Regions from separate parts of the Homo sapiens genome. Here region 1 is linked to region 2. The links come from fine-mapping of genetic effects on gene expression. A gene starts in region 2. The other region holds a variant in brackets. All regions are shown on one strand. Distances are from middle to middle.

What was found.
Region 1: its variant is fine-mapped to the expression of CLDN5 in whole blood (TOPMed, PIP above 0.99).

The regions. Positions count from the first base shown.
Region 1 is chr22:19,578,409-19,586,734 of GRCh38, reverse strand. No RefSeq gene overlaps it. Among named protein-coding and RNA genes, the nearest start is that of LINC00895, 16 kb to the right of the region's middle. The variant A/G (reference allele first, on the strand shown) is at 4,270.
Region 2 is chr22:19,520,418-19,528,743 of GRCh38, reverse strand. It overlaps CLDN5 (claudin 5), which reads left to right and starts at 4,334. Exons shown (of 1, transcript NM_001363066.2): 1 at 4,334-5,717. The coding sequence starts at 4,489. The coding sequence ends at 5,145. It overlaps CDC45 (cell division cycle 45), which reads right to left. Exons shown (of 19, transcript NM_003504.5): 19 at 8,136-8,263. RefSeq lists an enhancer at 5,719-6,651.

The DNA of each region.
Region 1 (8,326 bases), 58 kb before region 2:
TTGAGATGGTGTCTCCCTGTGTCGCCTAGGCTGGAGTGCAGTGGTGCAATCTCTGCTCACTGCAACCTCTGCCTCTGGGGTTCAAGTGATTCTCATGCCTCAGCCTCCCGAATAGGTGGGATTACAGGTGTGAGCCACCACACCCGGATAATTTTTGTATTTTTAAGTAGAGACGGGGTTTCGCCATGTTGGGCCAGGCTGGTCTTGAACTTCTGACCTCAAGTGATCTGCCCACCTCGGCCTCCCAAAGTGCTGGGATTACAGGCATGAGCCACCATGCCAGGCCTAGAGGGTCTAATTGAACTGGTTAACAAAAGCCACCTATAGACAGCAAAACTAAAAGAGCAAACAGTAGCACATGCCCACTGGGTCCTGGCTGTAAACATTAACCCCTAGACATTGCCCTGGGGCCGGAGCCCCACAGCCTGCCCATCTGTATGCTCCCCTAGCGGTTTGAGCAGTGGGGCACTGAAGAAGCGAACCACACCCCCATCGCCTGCCCTGCGAGGGGGACACGGGAACTTTTCCTGTTTCAGCACCACTGCACTCCAGCCTGGGCAATAGAGGGAGACTCTGTCTCAAAACAAAAACAAAAACAAAAACAAAACACAAAAAAACACAACTGGGTGCGGTGGCTCATGCCTGTAATCCCAGCACTTTGGGCCAAGGCAGGCAGATTGCTTGTGCCCAGGAGTTAGACAGCAGTCTTGGCAACATAACAAAACCCCATCTCTACAAAAAATACAAAAATTAGCTGGGTGTGGTGGCATGAGTGTGTAGTCTCAGCTACTCAGGAGGCTGAGGTAGGAGGATTGTTTGAGCCCAGGAGGTACGTGTTGCAGTGAGCTCAGGTCACACCACTGCAATCCAGCCTGGGTGACAGAATGAGACCCTGCCTCAAAAAAAAAGAAAAAGAAAAGAAAAGTTAAAAAAAGAAATTTTGTTTTTAGGAAGTGGATGCACATGATGAAAAAATTCAAAAGCTACAAAAGAGTGAAAGTAATGATAGATCTTTACAAAAATCCTGGATGCATTTATTTATAAGCATGTATGTAAATAGATCCTTTAACAGTGGTAGCACTCTCCTATTCACAACAGCAAAGATATGGAATCAAACTGTGTCCACTGACAGATGAAGAAATAAAGAAAATGTGAGATAGATATATATATATATATATATATATATATATAAATATATATATAATGGAATTCTATTCAGCCATAAGATGAATGAAATCGTCATTTGCAGCAGCATGGATGGAACCGATGATCATAACGTTAAGTGAAATAGGCCAAGCACAGAAAGACAGCTACCATATGTTCTCACTCATATGTGGGAGCTAAAAAGTTGATGTCATGGAGGGAGAGAATAGAATGATAGATACCAGAGGCTGGGAAGCATGTGTGGGTGGGAGGAGGATAAAGAGAAGTTGGCTAATGGGTACAAACATATGGTTAGGTAGAAGAAATAAGCCCTAACATTCCATAGCAGGGTAGTAGGGTATCTGTAGCTGGCAACAATGTATTGCATATTTCAGAGCAGCTAGAAGAGAGGACTTGAAATGCTACTGATGCAGGGCAGGTTCTTGGCTTCCTCAGGAAGGAATTCAAGAGCAAGCTGGTAGTGGAAGAAAACAGCTTTCTTGCGGTGGAGGCAGTGCTATAGCTCTGGCTGGCTGCCCCTGCAGAGCAGAGCTACCCCATAGGCAGTGTGCTGAGGGTCGCAGCCTAGGGGCAGTTTTGCAGTCATATCTTATACCCACTTTTAGTGCCATGCTAATTAAGGGGCAGGTTATTCAGAAACAGCTAGAAAATGGGTGGTAAGTTTTGGGTGTTGCTATGGCAATAGTAAACTGTCATGGCACTGGTGGGCATGTCTTATGGAGAGGTCCTTTGTGCACTTCTTCCTAGTTTTGGCCAGTCCTCAATCTGGTCCGGAGTTGAGTCTCGCCTGCCTCCTACCTCATTACAAACACTTAGAAATAAATACTCAAGGCCGGGCACGGTGGCTCACACCTGTAATCCCAGCACTTTGGGAGGCCGAGGCAGGCAGATCACGAGGTCAGGAGATCAACACCATCCTGGTTAACACAGTGAAACCCCGTCTCTACTAAAAAATACAAAAAAAAAAAAAAAAATTAGCCGGGCGTGGTGGCGGGCGCCTGTAGTCCCAGCTACTCGGGAGGCTGAGGCAGGAGAATGGCGTGAACCCGGGAGGCAGAGCTTGCATTGAGCCAAGATCGTGCCACTGCACTCCAGCCTGGGTGACAGAGCAAGACTCCCTCTCAAAAAAAAAAAAAAAAGAAAAAAGAAAGAAACACTCAAGGTGATGGATACCTCAGATACTCTCAGTTGATCATTACATATTCTGTAATGTGTAATGTAACAACTACTCCATGTACCACATAAACATGTAAAAATTTATCAATAAAAAGTAGCAACTTATATGCACTATTCTGTATCTTCTGTAGCTCCCTATTCTTTCTGATATAAACTATGGTTATTTCAGAAAATGCAGAATAACTACACTGTACATCAGTGTTTTACCTCAGTTAAAGGATTTTTAAAAATCAATATTATTGATGTACAGCTTGCATACGAGAGAGTGCACACATCTTAAGTATACAGCTTAGGCCGGGCATGGTGGCTCACGCCTGTAATCCCAGCACTTTGGGAGGCCGAGGTGGGCAGATCATGAGGTCAGGAGATCGAGACCATCCTGGCTAACATGGTGAAACCCCGTCTCTACTAAAAATACAAAAACAAAATTAGCCGGGTGTGGTGGCCCATGCCTGTAGTCCCAGCTATTTGGGAGCCTCAGGCAGGAGAATGGCGTGAACCCGGGAGGCGGAGCTTGCAGTGAGCCAAGACGTGCCACTGCACTCCATCCTGGGTGACAGAGTGAGACTCTGTCTCAAAAAAAAAAATAAAAGTATACAGCTCAATGCATGTAGACAAATGTGTATACCTGTGTAAGTAACCATCATCACAGTCAAAACCAAGAACATCCCATCACTCCAGAAGCTTCCCTCATGACTCCTCCTGGTCACACCAGGACCCAGGGAACCACCCATCTGTGTTCCATCATTCTAGATGAGATCTGTCCTTTCTAGAGTTTTCTATAAAAGGAATCACAGTGCATACTGTTTTGTCCAGCTTCTTTCATTCAACATAAGTCCTGTGAGATTCATCCACTTGTTGTACCATCAGTTTTCTGCTCTTTATTGATAGTGTTTTCCTACTTTTTTTGTGTTAATATGGAGGATTATATTGATTTTTAAATGTTAAGCTGATGTTGCATTACTGGGATAAACTCTACTTGTCCATGGCCTATCCTTTTTTTTGTTGCTAGATTCAACTGACTTTTTTTTTTTTCAGACAGGGTCTCACTCTGACACCCATGCTGGAGTGCAGTGACGCGATCTCTGCTCACTGCAGCCTTGACCTCCCAGGCTTCAGTGATCCTCCCACCTCAGCCTCCCAAGCAGCTGGGACCACAGGTGTACACCACCACACATGGCTAATTTTTTGGATTTTTTGTAGAGTCAGGGTTTCACCACGTTGCCCAGGCTGGTCTTCATCTCCTGAGCTCAAGCGATCTGCCTGCCTCGGCCTCCCAAAGTGCTGGGATTACAGTCGTGAGCCACTGTGCCCAACTCAATTGGCTAGTTTTTGTCGTTGTTGTTGTTTTTTTTTTTTTGTCATGATGGAGTTTTGTTCTTGTCGCCCAGGCTAGAGTGCAATGGCGTGATCTCGGCTTACTACAACATCCACCTCCCGGGTTCAAGCAATTCTTCTGCTTTAGCCTACCAAGTAGCCGGGATTACAGGTATGCACCACCACACCTTGCTAATTTTTGTATTTTTGGTAGAGACAGGTTTTTGCCATGTTGGCCAAGCTGATCTCAAACTCCTGACCTCAAGTGATCTGCCTACCTTGGCCTCCCAAAGTGCTGGGATTACAGGTGTGAGCCACCGCACCCAGGCAGTATTCTGCATTCTTAAACTGATTTTCTGCCTCCTTGTTCTGTCATTTACTGAGAGAGAAGTGTGGAAATCTCTAGCTATAACTGCGCATTTGTCTATTTGTTCTCTTGGTTCTGTCAGTTTTTGCTCTGTATTGGGTGCATACATATTTAGGATCATAATGTCTTCTTGATGACTTGACCACTTTATCCGCATAAAACAGTCCTCCCTATCTCTAGGAACAGTCCTGTTCTGAGTCTGCTTTGCCGGATGCCATTCCAGTATTCTCATAACTCACGTTCAC[A/G]TGATCTTGTTCCATTCCTTTACTAACTCCTGCATTTTTAATTGTGGTAAAATATACACAGCACAAAAGGATCCTTTTTTTTGAGACGGAGTCTCACTCTGTCACCAGGCTGGAGTGCAGTGGTGCCATCTCGGCTCACCGCAACCTCCGACTCCCTGGTTCAAGCGATTTTCCTGCCTCAGCCCCCGAGTAGCGGGGATTACAGGCACGTGCCACCATGCCCAGCTAATTTTTGTATGTTTAGTAGAGATGGGGTTCACCATGTTGGCCAGGCTGGTCTTGATCTCTTGACCTCGCGATCCATCTGCCTCGGCCTCCTAAAGTTCTGGGATTACAGGCATGAGCCACCGCGCCTGGCCAAAAGGATCATTTTAATCATTTTAATTGTACAGTTCTGTGGCAGTAAGCACATTCACAATGTTGTACAACCATCAGTATCATCCATCTCCAGAACTTTGTTGTCATCCCAAACTGTAAGTCTATACTAATTCAATAATAACTTCCCATTCCCTGCTTCCCCACCCTCTGGTAACCACTATTCTAATTTCTGTCTCTATGAATTTGATTACCTTATATAAGAGATACCTCATATAAGTGAAATCAGACAATATTTGTCTTTTTGTGACTGGCTTATTTCACCGGGCATGGCTTCAACATTCATCCATGTAGTAACATGTGTCAGAATTCCTTCTTCTTTTTTTTTTTTTGAGACAGAATCTTGCTCTGTCACCCAGGCTGGAGTGCAGTAGCATGATCTTGGCTTGCTGCAACCTCTGCCTCCTGGGTTCAAGCAATTCTCTGCCTCAGCCTCCTGAGTAGCTGGGATTACAGGCACCTGCCACCACACCCAGCTAATTTTTGTATTTTTAGTAGAGACAGGGTTTCACCATCTTGGCCAGGCTGGTCTTGAACTCCTGACCTCGTGATCCACCCGCCTCGGCCTCCCAAAGTGCTGGGATTACACACATGAGCCACCGTGACCGGCCAGAGTTCCTTCTTTAAGGCTGGATAATATTCCATTGTCCATGTCTGTAGACCACATTGCTTATCCATTTATCTGTCGGTGCATGTTTGAATTGTTTCTACCTTTTAGCTAGCGTGAATGATGCTGCTGTGAACATCGATGCACAAGTGTCTTGAGTCCCTGCTTTCAATTCTTTTCAGTGCATGCCTATTCTGGGCGTGGAATTCCTAGACCACACGGTAATTCTGATTCACTTTTTTTTTTTTTTTTTTTGAGACGGAGTCTTGCTCTTTAGCCCAGGCTGGACTGCAGTGGCGCTATCTCGGCTCACTGCAAACTCCACCTCCCGGGTTCACGCCATTCTCCTGCCTCAGCCTCCCGAGTAGCTGGGACTACAGGCGCCCACCACCACGCCCAGCTAATTTTTTTATTTTTAGTAGAAATGGGGTTTCACCGTGTTAGCCAGGATGGTCTTGATCTCCGGACCTCGTGATCTGCCCACCTCGGCCTCCCAAAGTGCTGGGATTACAGGCGTGAGCCACCGCGCCTGGCCTCTGATTCACTTTTTGAGGAAATACCAAACTTTTCCACGGTGGCAGCACCATTTTACATTCCCACCAACAGTAAACCAACGTTCAATTTCTCCACATCTTCACGTTCTTTACATCCTTGCCAATGCTTTTATTTTCTGTTGTTGGTTTTGCTTGGCTTTTTTTGATAATAGCCATCCTAATGCCTGTGATTTGCATTTCCCTAATAACCAGTGATGTTGGGCATCTTTTCATGTACTTCTTGGCCACTTGTATGTCTTCTTTGGAGAAATGTCTATTCAAGTCCTCTGTCTATTTCTTATTTTTTGTTGTTGAGTAAAGTTATGACTTTTCAAAACGTATTTTACCTTGATTTGTTTTGCCACCTATGATGTTTTATTTTGAACTTTAGAAGTGGAAAGAAACTAATAAGTCATATTTAAAGCCATGTTGTTCTTCCAGTCAGCACCATAATTCTTAACAAGAAAACTTGACATTTCATTTAAGTGATTAAATGTATAGAGGTTGGAGATTTGCATTTTCCTCTATAATCCATATAATAATCCATGGAAAATCTTTTCCAATAGTTAACAATGCAGCAGAAAACAGCCCATACATAACGACAAAATGAAAACTCCCAGATCATTTGCATCCTGCCAGAATCTTAGCTTCCCTCGCATTACTGCTATTCATGACCTCAAGCCACACGTTCTTATAAGGATGTGACCCCAACTTTGATAGTAAATGAATGGTTATCAGATCGAGGTCTCTCTCTTCCTCTCACAGCTTCAAAACAGTGACAGGAAATGGGAAAAGGGAAAACACCTCAGAGTTTGCAAACGGGTGACTGTGTGCCTCAGCAGCACAGGAAGGAAATGACCACGGGACACCTGTGCAGTGGCTAGAGCCAGGCCGGCCTCATTCGATGTCATGTGACGGGTGGAGATGGGGGAGCTGTGACAGCGGCAAGCACATCCCGGCCAGGCCCGGGAGAACATGGGCTCCACCAGCTCACCCCCTCCACAGCCTTTCCTTCAGAAGCCTCGCTGTGGACACAGACTGAAACAGGCCGTGTGGTGGTGGGAGGGGTGTCATTATATTATTCTATTTGTGTGTACATTTGTGTGTTTTCATAATGAAGTTGGTATTTTTAAAAAAGAAGCCTCTCCTCCCTTTTTTCTCCTTGGTATTTTAAACCATCCAAATATTAAGAATGCTCTCTAAAGACAATCAAAACAGCAAGCATCTCAACAGTAATAACTTCACCCCACTGAGCTGAATTAGGCCAGCAAAGGTCTCAGAAATGAACTCTCTACCTTCGTTCACTCAACACATCTTTGACCTTTGGGAAAGTACCCCGTGCCAGTGTGCCAGGCCCTCTTTTACCTCCAAAGAGCAGTGGAGACTGGGCGTCCTACTGGGCAGTAGATGTGGGCAGAGCCCCACAAAGAGCAGAGTCTGGCAAGGGGGGTCCAGGCCAGCTGGGGCAGAGGCCTTGCAGGCACTGGGACAGACTGTGGCCTGCACACAGGGAAATGGGACCCTGCCTGCACACAGGGCTGACTCACCACACACCAGCCACAGTTTGCTATATGACCAGAGGGTAAAGAGAGACCCCACCCAACTGGGGCCTTCAGGCACCAACTAGAGGACAGGAAGAACCCAGCTGGAGGCCCTCTTGCCTCAGCCAACAGGCGCCAGTGGTGAGCACAAGGAAGACAGAACACAGGCCATCCCCAGGGTGGGGACAAGGAGGAGGAAGCTCAGCCTCCAGCCCCAGGGACAGGGCCCCTTGAGACCCCAGGAGGGAGTGACCTAGTCTCAGGGTCCCTTTTCTTCCCAATTCCAGCAGTGTCAGAACTGCCAGGTACAAGAAAGAGCCACGCAGTCCTCTGGGCAGCAGAAACCCGAGGCTCAGTGAGAGCAGTGACCCAGGAGAGCCAGCTTTCCACGCGCAGGCTGGAGCCACTCGCTCCTTCTGGCCACACATAAGTTACTGAGCATCTGCTCACCAACAGCTTCCTTTTGTTAGGAAGTGTGGAAGTGGCATCTGAGCAGACTTGGGGGAAGTGAGTGGGTGTGGGGCCTGTTCCAGACCCAGAGAGCACCCAGTGCAAAGGCCCTGTGGCAGGAGCATGCCTGGTCTCCTGGGGACCGAGCGGCCAGGGTGTGGAGAGCGGCAGCAGGCAGCACAGGCCATGGCCACTTTGGGACCTTTGACTGTGAACAGAAGCCACAGCATGGTGTGGAGCAGAGGAGCAACATAATCTAGAGAGGTGGTTTTTTGTTTTTGGTTTTGGTTTTTTTTTTTTTTTAAGAGACAGGGTCTCATCTGTCACACAGATTGGAGTGCAGTGGTGCAATCATGGCTCACTGCAGCCTCGAACTCCTGGGCTCAAGCAATCCCCTCCTGCTTCAGCATTCCCAGCAGCTGGGACCCCAGGCACGCACCACCACACCCGGATATTTTTTAAATTTTTTGTAGAGACCGAGTCTTACTATGTTGCCTAGGCTGGTCCCAAACCGCTGGCCTCAAGCCATCCTCCTGCCTCAGCCTCCTGGC
Region 2 (8,326 bases):
ACGAAATTTGGTTTATGATGTACTTTGGTGGACTTTTTTTTTTTTTTGAGATGGAGTCTTGCTGTGTTGCCCAGGATGGAGTGCAATGGCATGATCTCGGCTCACTGCAACCTCTGCCTCCCAGGTTCAAGGGATTCTCCCACCTCAGCTACCCGAGTAACGGATTACAGGTGCGTGCCACCACGCCCAGCTAATTTTAGTATTTTTAGTAGAGACGGGGTTTCACCGTGTTGGACAGGCTGGTCTCAAACTCCTGACCTCAAGTGATCCGCCCACCTCGGCCTCCTGAATGGAATTACAGGCGTGAGCCACTGCGCTTGGCCTGGCTTGCCATTCTATAGAACCCTTGACCCTTCGTGGATCACACCAGAGCTCCCTGCCCCCCACTCCCTCACCCGCTGGGGAAGTTAAAGCCACAGTGACCTCCAATTCTGACTAACAGCCAGCGATGACTACCCTGAGGGGTGCGGCTGAGGTTGGATGAGCTGTGAAGGCCCTGGGAGCCTGGGTGGATGGCACTCAGGAAAGGCAGAAGAGAACCGGGACTGGCATCGGCCTCCCCTGCAGCCTCGCAGCCTCCACCATTGGGGGGCTTCGTTACCAGTGAGGAACTAAGGCAGAGAGGCCACCTCACTAGTCCAGAAAGTTTCTTGCTTGCGGGAGCGAATCTGACTCCATGCCTGTGTTTAACCACAAAGAGTAACAACAATGCCCGCAAAACCGCCGAGTCTGGCACTGTCCACTCTGGATGCTGCTCACATCGTCACAGCCGCCCAGGGGCCCCACACAGGGTGCCTCGGGCACCTGGTGCAGTGGTCAGGGATGCAGGAGGACCCCAGCTGCTGCTCTCGGCCTGCAGGAGTACTGGCTTGTGTCAAGAAAGAGCACCAGGCCACACTGTGCTTGGAGGCTCTGCAAACATTTGCGGAAATAGAAGGACACATCCTTAACTGTTTCAAAACTGAAAGATAGAAGAAACGCTGTTCTTCACTTCCCCTGAAATCAAATCTGTTAACTAGGAGTTTCCCAAACCCAAATCCCCAGGAATCTTGAGCCTAAATTTAGCTTATCCTTGGAAGGTCACGGGATTACCCTGGGGCAGGGTCAGCCAGCAGCTGCTCAAGATAAACTTGGCTTTTCTGCAGACTCAGGCTCTTCTCACACACAATTAATGAGATCCTGCCATTCTTCCCCTGGGAAAGCAGAACAATGGCTGGGGGTGAGCAGGTGGCCTTGGCCAGTGCTCTGCCCCAAGGGCCCTTTACCAGAGATCAGGGGTTTGTGTCCCTGCCTAACCAGGACACCTCCGATCTCCACCTGCAGGCCCTGGACCACTGTGGCACTGTGGACACAAGGCCGCTTCTGCCCCTTGGACGCCGAGCCCCTTCCCACCTCTGGGATCTTGCACTGGCTATTGCTTCTGCTCTGCCTGGAACTTCTTCCCCGGATCCCTGTGAAATGTCACCTCTTCAGAGAGGCCTTCACCACTGTCTTTCCTGCCCAGTTCTTGGTTGATAGGTTCCTGTCAGCTCCTTCTGGGCAGGAGCTTCTTGTGCTGTGTGCTCTGCCTAGAGACAGTGCTTGCCACGAAGTAGGTGAGCAGACCCTCCATGAGTGGCAGGAAAGGTGGGTGCACCCTCATGCCCCTCCGGAGTCTGGCCTGGGCTACTCAGAGGCCAGCCTCCATCTGAGGTGGGTTTGTCTGGGGTGGCGTCAGCCCCTGCGGCCCTCTCTGGGCCTCTCTGCATTGGCATTGTTCCACTGCAGCCTGGGGCCTCGACCAACATAGTGGGGTCAGGGTAGAAACCAGATTGTGAAAGGTGAAGCCTGAGACTCCTCTGCCACGTCCCTGAGATGCTGTGAGGCTGCCGCCAAAGAAACATGAGCTTGCTGGGGCCACCCTAGGGTGACAGCTAGGAGAGAAGAAAAACAGGCAGCCAGGTGAGAAGGGAGAGCCTTGGGCTGGCTGCAGCTCCAAGCTGGCTAGAGGGCAACAGGCAGCCTCCTGTGCAGGACAGACGCATGAAGACAGCCACCCTGTGGAGGTTATTCCTGGATACTAGGTGGGAAAGTCGGCAAGCAAAAGGACAGGTCCAGCTCAAGCTTCTAAAAGCAATGCTGGGGGACGGTGCAGCAAGGTGTTCCTGGAAATGACCTCGGCAACACATCTTAGAAGATGAGCAGGACCCAACCTGACAGATACACGCTGCGGGCAGAAGAGGCCAAGGTAAGAGACGGCCCATGTGAGGCCCATAGGCAGGTAAGTCTCCTGGGGCAGAGTGTGTGCTCAGGGCCGCACCAAGACTGGTGGCTGGACTGGCCAGTCCTAGCGCATGCAGGTACACATCAATCCAGCTGCTCTGGGAGTCGGCTCTTCGTCCATGGGCAATGTGAGCCATGGAGGGTCTTAGGTAGGGTGAGGCCCAGGAGAGGGGCCTGGTGGGGTGGGTGGCCTAGCTGGGCAAGGGCAGGTCCCTGATGACCTGAGGAGGCCGCAGCAGTCATCCCAGGAAGATGGTGGCATGGAAGGGCTGGGAGTAGGGGGATCTGGGGAAGTTCCCTGGGCTTGGGTTAGGGGGTAGTAAGAGTGAGAGGGTGGGTGGGTCAGCTGTACCCCTGGAGTACACAGAGGAGGAGATGTCCAGGAGGGTCTGTAGAGGAAGGGGCATGGCCCATGGGTCTGCAGCAGGAGGAAGGCAGTGACTAAAGTGATAGCTGGGAGAAGGCAGTGGTCCTCAGAGCCATACCTGGTGGGGAGAGGCCACGTGGGGCTGAGCAAAGAGGGTATGATTTCCTTCCAGCCTCAGGGCTGGGCACACTTGCCTTCAGAACCTCCCCACACTAGGTGAGCCAGACGCTGGCCTTATCTCATTTACCATCTCAGAGCCATCTGAAGGGGGAGAAGGGAACCGGGCCCCAGGAGGGAGAAAGTCATCAAACCTCCCACATCTGTGACCAGCCTCAGTGCCATACTTTTTCTATGGAGGGCCCTGTCCAATGGAACTGAGCACAGACCAGATAAAAGAACTGGGCACCCAGTGGCCTCAGTCCAGGGCCTGGAGTTCAAACTTTACTGGAAACAAAGGGGCCGAGAGAGACTGGGGAAAGAACTACTAGAAAGGGGCTGGTGCCCCCATGGGGCTGTGGGTTTTGGAGCCGCGTGCCCCCACCTGAGCCTCAGGGGGCCCGGAGTGTCCACACCAGTGGACCTTTCGAGAAATGGCTGGGCCATTGTGCAGAAGAATGCCCGGAAATCCCGCGCCTCCCTCCTCCAGCAAGGATGGGGGCTCTTCCTCCTGGCCAGGAAACTCCAAGTTGGCTTCCGGAGGGTGGCCTGGGGGCTGGGGTGCCAGGGACACCATCGCCACTGGTGGGAGGGCAGGGCACAGCCCCTCCGTGTCCCTTTGTCTCTCCTGTCTGAAGGCCAGAGCAGGCTGCTAGGCCTGGGGCCACCACTGCCCCTGGGTGCTACACCCAGTGTGCTGGGTCACTGGGAACTTCCTGAAGTGGTGTCACCTGAACTGGGCCCCCAAGGATGGGGTGCGGGCAGTACCGCAGGAAGAGGAGCAGCCCCTGTGAAGATTGAGAGGTCTGGGAAGCCCCTGCGGCTTGGGAGAGTGGGGGTCGCCAGGCAGGGGGAAAGCCCCTGTGCCACCGCTTTTTGCCAGAGACTCAGGCTCCAGAGAGGCAGTGAGTGGCATGGGGGGTGAGGCTGGGGCCCTGGGCCTGACCTCCACACGCCTGCCTGGCCTCTCTGTTTGCCATGGGATGAGAGAGACAGTGCTGGGACTCAGAGCGGGGCTGGAGAGTGAGAGTGCGAGAAAGGGCCTGGGTGGGGCTTGGACCCCGGGGCGGGCTTTCTGGAGAGCCCCCCTACGAGGGCCTCTACGGCGGTGACGGGGTGGGGGGCTTCTGCAAACCTTGGTCAGGGAAGTGGAGCTGGCTCGAGTGGAAGAGACCACCCGGCTCAGTCGGGGATGTGGGAGTGGACTGGGTGGTGCAGACTGGGGGTCGAGCGCCTTCTGAAGTGACGGGGCCGGGACGCGCAGGGAGGCGGCCCAAGAAGCGCGCCCTAGGCCAGCCCAGAATGCGCTCGGCCGCGACTAGGACAACGGCGGGTGGGGCTGGGGGCGGCTGCCGGGCGGGGAGCGGTCCCGCGCCCTCAGCTACCCCTCAAGAGCCGTTGTTTCCCTAACTTCAGCTGCCAGAGGCTCTGTGATTGGCTGCGGCACGATGACCCGCGCACGGATTGGCTGCTTCGGGCCGGGGGGCCGGGCCCGGGGGACAGAATCCGCCCCCGAACCTTCAAAGAGGGTACCCCCCGGCAGGAGCTGGCAGACCCAGGAGGTGCGACAGACCCGCGGGGCAAACGGACTGGGGCCAAGAGCCGGGAGCGCGGGCGCAAAGGCACCAGGGCCCGCCCAGGGCGCCGCGCAGCACGGCCTTGGGGGTTCTGCGGGCCTTCGGGTGCGCGTCTCGCCTCTAGCCATGGGGTCCGCAGCGTTGGAGATCCTGGGCCTGGTGCTGTGCCTGGTGGGCTGGGGGGGTCTGATCCTGGCGTGCGGGCTGCCCATGTGGCAGGTGACCGCCTTCCTGGACCACAACATCGTGACGGCGCAGACCACCTGGAAGGGGCTGTGGATGTCGTGCGTGGTGCAGAGCACCGGGCACATGCAGTGCAAAGTGTACGACTCGGTGCTGGCTCTGAGCACCGAGGTGCAGGCGGCGCGGGCGCTCACCGTGAGCGCCGTGCTGCTGGCGTTCGTTGCGCTCTTCGTGACCCTGGCGGGCGCGCAGTGCACCACCTGCGTGGCCCCGGGCCCGGCCAAGGCGCGTGTGGCCCTCACGGGAGGCGTGCTCTACCTGTTTTGCGGGCTGCTGGCGCTCGTGCCACTCTGCTGGTTCGCCAACATTGTCGTCCGCGAGTTTTACGACCCGTCTGTGCCCGTGTCGCAGAAGTACGAGCTGGGCGCAGCGCTGTACATCGGCTGGGCGGCCACCGCGCTGCTCATGGTAGGCGGCTGCCTCTTGTGCTGCGGCGCCTGGGTCTGCACCGGCCGTCCCGACCTCAGCTTCCCCGTGAAGTACTCAGCGCCGCGGCGGCCCACGGCCACCGGCGACTACGACAAGAAGAACTACGTCTGAGGGCGCTGGGCACGGCCGGGCCCCTCCTGCCAGCCACGCCTGCGAGGCGTTGGATAAGCCTGGGGAGCCCCGCATGGACCGCGGCTTCCGCCGGGTAGCGCGGCGCGCAGGCTCCTCGGAACGTCCGGCTCTGCGCCCCGACGCGGCTCCTGGATCCGCTCCTGCCTGCGCCCGCAGCTGACCTTCTCCTGCCACTAGCCCGGCCCTGCCCTTAACAGACGGAATGAAGTTTCCTTTTCTGTGCGCGGCGCTGTTTCCATAGGCAGAGCGGGTGTCAGACTGAGGATTTCGCTTCCCCTCCAAGACGCTGGGGGTCTTGGCTGCTGCCTTACTTCCCAGAGGCTCCTGCTGACTTCGGAGGGGCGGATGCAGAGCCCAGGGCCCCCACCGGAAGATGTGTACAGCTGGTCTTTACTCCATCGGCAGGGCCCGAGCCCAGGGACCAGTGACTTGGCCTGGACCTCCCGGTCTCACTCCAGCATCTCCCCAGGCAAGGCTTGTGGGCACCGGAGCTTGAGAGAGGGCGGGAGTGGGAAGGCTAAGAATCTGCTTAGTAAATGGTTTGAACTCTCTCCCACCTGTGTCCTGTTCTCTGTCCAGCCATCTTCCGTGTCCAGCAGCCCCATTCATCACCCACCAGCCCCGCCCTCCCAAGGACTCCTGTGGAGACCTCCTCCCAGGGCTGGAGGCTGGGGCTCTTTTCCCCATCCTCCCTGCCACCTTCCCACCAGGTGGGAGACACAGCCACCACTTACTACAGCCCAGAAAGGCGGGATCTGCGGTCAGAAGAGCTGCTGCGTCATGGGGCCCTGGGGCCCGGGATGGGACAGGGGCGGGGGCAGCGGCAGACCCCAGCAGAAGATGCGGGGTGAAGCGCCCTCAACACAGGCTGGTGAGTGGGGGTCCTGCGGTGTGGGAAGTGCTGGGGGTGAGCAGCCAGGCCGCTGGCTTCTCCCAGAAAGGGCCAAGCCCCACACAGCACAGGGTGAGGTTTTCCACTGCCCTCTCAGGGCTTGCCTAGTCCCAAGCCCCATCAAGTGGCCACAGAGGTCTGTAGAATCCCCGACCAGGCCCTTTCCAATGGTGGGTGGGGCAGGAACAGGGGTGAATGCAGGACACGCCGGTCAACAGTAGGGTTGCCATGGGAGGAGGTGCTGGCAGCTGGTTGCCTGGAGTACCACAGCTTGGCTCTAGCCCCTCGTCCTGGCTCCTCTGCCAGTCCCAGCGCAGCTCCCTACAGAGCCTGTACCCACCCTGCTGGCCTGGCAGCCTGCCCAGAATGGTGCTCACAACCAGCACCTGTGCCAGCCCCTGCTGGGGGCACTCTGGGTAACCTTCCTCCTCCAGGGGCTGTGTGGCCTGGGAGTCAGTGCTGGCCCCTGCCAGGCACCTCGGAATGGGGGTGTCTAGAGCCATCTAACATAGCCACTGAGAGCTCACTGTTTTTAGCCTTGTTCTAGGCACTTTGAATTAACACATTTTTGACATTTGACATAAAGCTAGAAGCAGAAGAGAGCAGCTGATGAAGGGGGCATGCTGCAGGGAAGAGCTCTAAGCCCAGCCGGAAGGGAGACTTGGTATCTGCCCCAAACTGGACTTGGGGGCCCTGCCCAGAAATGTCTGGGCCACATCCAGTGGCAGGGAGTCTCCTAGGTCTGGCCAGGCTACCATCATGGAGCAGTGGGAGAACCCCAAGAATGCAGGCTCAGAGTGGCTTAGGGCAGCTGCTGGAATGTGTGGCAGCTTCCTGGGAGCTGCTGTGGAACCAGCCGGTGGGATGAGTTACAGGGAGAGGGGCCCCACGGTGCAGAGGTCCTCAGCAGGCCTGACCTGTACCCCACCTGGGCCTGTACAACAGGGACCAAGAATAGTCCCCAAGCTTGGGAGTGTGTGATCCCAGAGCTGTGGCCCTGGGCAGAGCCAAAAACAATGGTCCTTACACTCTTGCACCTGGCCACCGGGACTGGGTAGTACCAGGTCTGGTGTGTTTGGTCAGAAGCTGAGGCCCAAGGCTGCCTGGGAGGGCATTCCTAAGAAAGCCTTTTCCTAAGAAAGGACAGGCACGGGGCTGGGCACGGTGGCTCACGCCTGTAATCCCAGCACTTTGGAAGGCCGACGTGGGCGGATCACAGGGTCAGGACATCAAGACCATTCTGGCCAACGTGGTGACACCCGTCTGTACTAAAAATACAAAAATTAGCTGGGCGTGGTGGTGTGTGCCTGTAATCCCAGCTACTCGGGAGGCTGAGACAGGAGAACCACTTGAACTCGGGAGGCAGAGGTTGCAGTGTGCCGAGATCGCACCAACTGCACTCTAGTCTGGTGACAGAGCGAGACTCTGTCTCAAAAAAAGGAAAGAAAGGGCATGGAAAGGAAGCTGCACAGCCTTTGAATTTTCCCAAATGGCCAGGGTAGGCAGCTCAAGGGTCCCGGGAAGCTGTGCAAACCACCAGAGGTGAGGGGAGGGGCCCAGCCTCCAGTCCAGCTCTCACCCTTTTGTGCCCACTGCCCTTTGCCAAGGGCTGCACCAAGACCAGCCCCACCTACCTGTGTGCTCTTTTCCAGGCCACTCTTTCTGAGCTTTTCCCCACTGACTTAAAACCTACCCAAATCACTCCTGCCTTCAAAGACCTGGAAAAGAGTGCTGGATGGTGAGACCCACAGGTGGAGGGATGGCTGAGAGGGTGGACTTGCTATGTGGCTGAGGCCAGGTGGACCAGAGGAAGTGGTAGGTGGACAGAGCCAGGTGCTGGCTGGCACCACCAGGCAGTGGCCGGTGCAGGTGCTATGAGGAGGCGGGGATGCCGAGGGGTCCTGACCTCTGTCCACTGCCACCCGGAGGGCCTGGAGGACAGAGTAAGGAGATCTTGTCCTTGGGGCCAATCCCCATGCTGATTTCCTGCCAGGCACTGAGGGCTCCTGGGGCCCAAGACCCACAGAAGGCTCAGAGCACACTCAAGCACTGGCCTCGAGACCAGAGCCACAATGGGGACGGAGCCTAAAATAAGCATTTTATTTAATAAAAAATGGCTTCTACATCTCAAATCATGTCCATAACTTACAATCTAAATGAAAGCCAGTTACATAAATAAGAAGGTCATTCTGGAAGAATCAAATTCTAGAAAACAAAACAAGAAAAAACAAGTTTCAAACGATGTTGATGTGCCACCGAATTGAAGAA